Linked DNA regions of Homo sapiens. The protein of the gene in region 1 interacts with the protein of each later gene in a pairwise test. Each region holds a gene or a part of one and is shown on either strand. Other genes may lie near its edges.

Evidence for each region. Proteins that work in one complex are often made in the same cells at the same time.
Region 2: the proteins of RUNDC3A (region 1) and RAP2B interact in binary tests that used the Homo sapiens proteins (3 or more experiments, as listed by UniProt).

Annotation. Positions count from the first base shown.
Region 1 is NC_000017.11:44,311,448-44,315,204, reverse strand, and holds part of RUNDC3A (RUN domain-containing protein 3A), read right to left. Parts: intron 2,626-3,757; coding exon 2,510-2,625; intron 2,102-2,509; coding exon 1,953-2,101; intron 1,788-1,952; coding exon 1,702-1,787; intron 471-1,701; coding exon 381-470; intron 277-380; coding exon 196-276; intron 51-195; coding exon 1-50. UniProt on the Homo sapiens protein: May act as an effector of RAP2A in neuronal cells.
Region 2 is NC_000003.12:153,165,246-153,168,186, forward strand, and holds part of RAP2B (ras-related protein Rap-2b), read left to right. Parts: 3' UTR 1-2,941. UniProt on the Homo sapiens protein: Small GTP-binding protein which cycles between a GDP-bound inactive and a GTP-bound active form. Involved in EGFR and CHRM3 signaling pathways through stimulation of PLCE1.

The DNA of each region.
Region 1 (3,757 bases):
TGCTGCTCTCGGCGCTGTGCCGCTCCTCCTCGTCCGTCAGGTAGTCGTAGCTTGGGAGAGGGAGCAGTGGGCACGGCCGGTCCCGCCCCTCCCCCCGCGCGTCTGCGCTGGCCGCTGAGGGCGGTGGGACCAGGACGTCCCCAGGATGTCCCGAGGCCCCGTCCCCCGCCCCGCCGCAGTCATGGAGCCGCTCACCTCTGCGTGAACTTTAGGTAGGGCGTGTAATCGATGACCACGGGGGTCTTCCCGTCCAGGACTTCCCCCTTTAGACAGAAGCTGAGGCAGAGGAGCCACAGGGTTGGAGGTGGGTGTGAGGGGTTGGGGTAGGACATTTATGGGGGAAACAGCCCCCTCCACCACTGCCGTCAGGCAGACCCCACCTGAAGTCGATGGCGCTCAGTCCGATCAGCATTCCGGTGAGGATGGTGGCTTCATCCCGCAGCATGATGGCTCCAGAGTCATAGAACCGTCTGTGGGGAGGCAGAGGGCCAGAGGATGCAGCAGGCCCCTGGAGCGCCCCCCCCCCCCCCAGAGCTGCTATTGTTGGCTTACTGCCACCCCATCCTGAAGGAAGGCCAATTCTCCTTCCTGATCTGCACGCAGGCCTGGAGCCTCTCTCCCCCTTCAGCCTGGGGCTCGCACCTGTGGCCCCATCACCTAGAATGGGTGTTCCCTGAGCCGACTCCTCCCTCTGAGCTACCCCTTCCTCATCAAGTACTGGGTTACCCAGATCCTTCATATCAGGAAGCAAGTCTTAATCATTAGTGCTTGGTATACAGTAGGTGCGCAAAAAACGTGTTAACTTGAAACGTGTAGACTGAGGAATGGAATTCAGTAAAAACATCAGGCTGGGTATGGCCAATTGGGATGGGGAGGTATATGCCCCCCGCCACACCCAGACAGCTTCAGATGCACCTGCCCACACAGGCACACTCCTCCTTGTAACCCCTTGCCTCAGGCACCCAACCTCCCTGTGAACCCACAGTGCAGGGATTGAACTCCCCATATAAGGACTCTGTGTCCGTGAATAGCAAGTACAGAACTGCTTTCGTTGTTTGGAGAGACAGAAGGGCTGTGTTGTAGATCATGGAGCAAGCCAACACTTGAGATGGTGCATGGCTGAGGCTCATCCAGAGGTGTGCAAGGGTGGAGCGTGCTGGGCATTGATGGCAAATAATGGGCATTAGATTTGACTTGCAAGTGGTGGTGGTGGTGGTGGTAAAAGTTTGTCCTGGGGCCAGGAGCGGTGGCTCATGCCTGTAATCCCAGCACTTTGGGAGGCCAAGGCGGGAGGATCACCTGAGGTTGGGAGTTTGAGACCAGCCTGACCAACATGGAGAAACTAAAAATACAAAATTAGCTGGGCATGGTGGCGTATGCCTGTAATCCCAGCTACTCAGGAGGCTGAGGCAGGAGAATCGCTTGAACCCAGGAGGCGGAGGTTGCAGTGAGCCGAGATCGCGCCATCGCACTCCAGCCTGGGCAACAAGAGCGAAACTCCTTCTCAAAAAAAAAAAAAAAAAAAAGAGTTCGTCCTGGGACTGCAGGCCAGGCTGGAAGAGGGAAATCAGCCATGTGTGCTGGTGCTGGGACTTGTAGTCCAGGAACTGAAGGATGCTGCAGGAACTTAAGGATCAGCTGTGTTTGGGCAATGCAGGTGCACTCTGAGACCTGTGGTCTGAGTTGCCTGGGAAGTCTGACCTGGTGGTCCGGGTGTCACGCAGAGCCGTGGTGATGTATTCTGACATGCGCTTCTCCATCAGTGCCACCCGGATCCATGCCCGGCCCTGGAAATCATGTTCACCTTTACTTGCTGCCCCAGAGGGACTCATGTGTCCAGCATCAGGTGTGGGCCCTTCTCCCCTGGGCTGTGCACAGGGGGCAAAAACCAAGAAACAGGCAGGCCCCCTGTGTCCAGAGCAGAGAGCAGTTGCTTGCTTCAGGCCCCTCACCTTGGCCCGGGCTGTGCTGATGTTCTCCATGTTCTCGATGCTGCTCACACAGTTGTTGGGCACTTTGCTGCAGGCCAGCCGGATATAGTCCCAAAAGCCCCGCTGCCCGTCTGAGCTGAACCAGCTCACTGGACCTGCTGGGGCACAGGCTGAGCCAGGGCAGGGAGGGGGCTCAGCAAGACCAGGGAGTTTGGAGAGGGTCCATGTAGTGAGGCACTCACATGCATAAGCATAAGCAGCCTCCTCCCACAAAGATCTGTGCACACACATGCACGTGTGCAGTGGGCACCCCAGCATATCGCTTGCCCATGATGGGGATTGTAGGCCAAAGGCCTCTCCCTCTTCCCAGATCTGTACACAAGCTTCTGTGCATGGCCCAGAATGGGGGCCAGGGTCAATGAGGGGGTTCAGAGTCCATGGAGTATATCAGAAAGAGGTGGCTGGGAGCTAAAGGTTGGGAGTTGGGGAGGGACCGCTGGGGGAGGGGCGCTGGGGGAGGGACCACTGGGGGAGGGGCGCTGGGGGAGGGACCGCTGGGGGAGGGGCGCTGGGCCCACCTTTGAAGCGGTGGCTGAGGATCTGCTCTAAAATGGCTGCAAAATTGACAAACTCCTCCGATGAGTCATCGATGGGCTCCGCTGTGTACTTCTCCAGCAGCGTTTTCACAGAGAACCTGGGCGGCGAGGTGGGGAGATGGGGCAGTGGGGTGTCAGGTGAGGAAACAGGTGATGGAGGGAGAGACAGGGAGCAACCGGCAGAGAAGAAAGGTCAGGAAGGGCATGGATGTGGTGGGGGGCAGAGCGAGTGGGGAGACAGGCAAGACTACAGTGACCATAGAGGTACCGTGTCATGTGGAGTGAGAGGGTGGCAGATGGGGAGGAAGGGTGACAGGTGGGAGACTGATTGACAAAGTGGGTGACAGGAGAGGTGACAGCCAGAGAAAGGAAGCTTCGGGAGCAAGGGGTGAGAGGGACTGAAAAAATAGGAAGATGAGGCACAAGCCGGGGGCGGTCCAGGAGCCCCTTCCCCATAGACCACCCTTCAGGGTCTGTGTGTGCGAGGCCTGGGTCAACTAGGTGTTAGAAGCCAGTGTGTGCCCCACCTGAGCTGTCTTCTGTGATTGCTGGAGCAACCTTCAGTCCCTTTTGGGGATGGGGGTCACCTGTACCAGGGCATGTGAGTTGGCACTGTGCACATGGAGTGTGGGCATGCGCAGGTGGCCAGGTGGGCTCCCAGTACACAGATACCCCCTTCCCCCCTTTCCTTCCCGGCTTGGCCTCCCACACACCAGCTGCCCAGAACCAGGCAGTGCAGAGCTGGGCGGGGGTGGGGTGGGGAGGTGCGGGGTATGGGCCTGACACAGACACTGGGCAGGAGGGGGCATTGGCAGCAGATCCCTGGAAGGGGCTTGGGGGCCTGGCTTCTTTGGGAGGAAGGGACTAAGGGAAGCCTGTGGGGCTGAAGGACTGAAGCCATGCAGTGCCCCCTCTCCAGTCCTGTCTAAGCCTCAGGCTCCCTCTGCAGTCACTACCCCTGCAATCTCCCCCTGCCATCCCTGCAATGGAGTAGGGCAGGGATGAGGACACAGTTCCTAACATCCCATGATTTCCCTGCTGTGGGTGGCAGAGCAGGGGCGGGGTGTCCAGGGAAATGGGAGCTGCTTGGAAATGTCCTTTTCTTCTTATATTTATCAAGCCCTATAATGTGGCAAGCACAGTACTTTGCATGCATTCCCTTACCCATGCTCAGCCCTGAAAGGTAGGTCCTCTTAGTATTACTCTCATCCCCATTTTACAGGTAAAGAA
Region 2 (2,941 bases), on another chromosome or scaffold:
GGTTTTGATTTGGAAATAGATTTAAAAGAAAACAGGCTAAGATAATATCCTTGTTCTCATTTACACCCTGCAGTTTGGACCACATTTGACCTCATAAGTTTTTCCTTTTAACAGTAGGAGGCAGTGTGAGCTTTTTATTTTTTATTTTTCTTAAGGTGGTCTTAGTAATATAACATGTTCATACATATCAAGAGAGTACTTGGTATACCTTAGGTCTATGAAGTGTAGCTGAAATCTGAAGAGTCTTGACAAAGGGATTTACACCCTTGACAAAACCAAAAGAAATTAACAGGCCACAGGTTTCTTTAAAGCTGTGTTAACATATCTTGCCTTAAAATGTGTGTGTGTGTTTTTGCTTTGCTTTTTTTTTTTTGCCCAAGAGGCATCTCAGTACTCCAGCAATGGAGGAAGAATAGAGAATTTTGCCTGGCAATGGTCCTACTGCCATTTTTTTTTTCCCACTCTGATCTCACTTAAGTTTGATATCAAACACAATTGGGAGGCAATAGTATCAATATCCTAAATGTAGAAATTAAAAGATACTGTATAATTTTATGCCTTTGCAAAGATTCGTTCTTGTATTTGAATAAATTCAGTTGCTAAAGTAGATCCAAAGTGTTAAAAATGCTGAAGTCATGTCAAGTACTGTCTGGAGGGTTTTTTTAAGAAAAGGCATTTGGCATTTAACTGTCTCTTGTTTTATTTTTAAGTTTTTGGAAACCTTTTGACATAAAATGCTGCCAAGTATCTAAGAAATGTATATACTGACAGAAGATATTTGAAAGTGGAAAATTGGAAATGAAATATGTTGCTGGGTGCGTTAATCACCTCCGCCCAGGATTTAGTCACTTGCAGGACCTCTTTATAGTCTAGGATGGCAGAGCAGAAGATTTTAATATGCTTTTATTAAGTGATGTAAAATAAATGCTTTTTGGATTATCAATGAAAGCAATTTTATGTGTGCCTGAAGCAAGAAAATAGCGTTTTTGGTTTTATCTCATATTTTCTTGGCAAAATTGAGAGAAATTAGGAACACTGCTATTTTTTTCTTAAAAATGTTTTTAAGAATATGTTCGTTTCTTTGACTATTAAGAACCCCTTGTGGTATTAGTGTGTGAAGAGATAAGGGCATTTGTTTCAATGAAAAAGTTAGTGTTAAAGGAAGTGAGTCAGGGAGGGCGGAGTTTGTTGTAAGGCAATCACCTGTCAAAACAGAAATTGGGTGGGAAAGGAGTCTTTATCTTGGGGAGCAAAAGCTGACTTTTAAACTTGACCCCTGCTGTTTTTAAACAGCTTTTCCTTTTGGTCTCTGACAGTCAATCCAGGTTTTATGTTATTTCAAAAGGGTTATTTTTGTCCTCCTTTTTTAATAGCTTCAGGAAAGTTAAAGGTATCATCTTAGGTCTAACACTCTAGTCTTTGAGAGTTACGGTTCTTTCGTAGAACAATTTCCATGTTGTTAACTGTTGTAGACTTAATTGAATCACATTTTGGGACCAGATGTATTTGGGGATAGAATTCTTTAAATGTATGGGACTTCATGCTTCCTGATTATGTAATATTTCCTGTGGTTGGGAATCCTAGAATGCCTGATCTATTTTATCTGTTCAGGTAGTTTTGTTATTGTACCCTCTTTTGGGTCATATTCTAGTATTTCTCACAGGGGGTATGAGAAACAGAAAGCTATATGTAGCAGCTGGTCTTGAGAAGTAGAAGCATCTTAACTGTCATAAGAGCATAGATTTTTTGTTTTTCACAACAGCTGGAATAAGTTCCTGCATTATAAGTATAAAGGGAACCGAGATTTAATTTGGAGATCATCACTGTTAAAACGATACCAGACATTTGTCACAGTGTCTTATTTGGGGAAAGTTTGCTAATATACATTTTGTCTGTGAAAATATAGTAAATTTTAAAATACTAATATAATGTGGTATTCTTGATTACAGTATTTTATGCAGACTATTAGGAATGATTCAGTGCATTTAACTGAACACAGAGCTAGTTCTAGGTGAGTGAGATCTTTATCTATTAACTGGATTTTGAAGGTTTGAGAAGGCTATGGGGATCATCTGGTTGAAAGGTTCTCAAACTTGACCATATATCAAAATCACCTGGAGCTTAAAACATGTACTGCTGGGACCCTCCTCCAGTTTCTTACCCAGTGGGTCTCGGGTAGGGTCTCAATTTTCATTTCTAACAAGTTTCCAAGTGATTGTGTTATTGCTGTTCCAGGGACCACACTTTGAAAACCAGTGATCTAGACTGAACTCCAAATGAGTACTATACTGACAGCCACCTAGATATTGAGAGACACAGACTTCAGACTCATGTCACACATTTTGGAGTGCTGTCTACTACAGTTAGAGAATAATCTCTATTGAAATCTAAGCTAAAGAGGACATATACCATTTATACTAAGACTAACTGTTGTGTGTGAAATAGAATAAACATTGCAGGTAGTTTTTGATCATTTTCACATTATTACAGGAACATTTTGACTATGGTTTTCAATGTTAATTCAGAAGTTGACTTTAAATGAAAATGTGGTTAGAATAGAGGCAAAGCCTAAGTGATCAGAATCAACATTCCCCTTCTCCCCAACCTAGGGGAAAAAAAATTTGAAAAGTATGTCTTCAATAAAAGGGGACACTTTATTTGTCTTCTCTTCAACATTAAAAAACAAAGATTTTAAGTTTTCATGGCAAGGGTTCTAAAAATCATTGTGCCAGAGAATTTAAATCTTCATATCATGGTAAGCACATGCGTATGTCTGTGACTCAGTTTCTTAGCCAGACTTCCAGGTGTTAGTTAATTCCTTCTCATTTAGTTCTACTGTAATCCATTCTGGGAAAATGCATACCACAAAACTGTGTATCTTGCAGCTTCTTTCGTTATGCATCTTAATTCCCTCAGAAGGTCCCAGAACTTTATGTTAAAG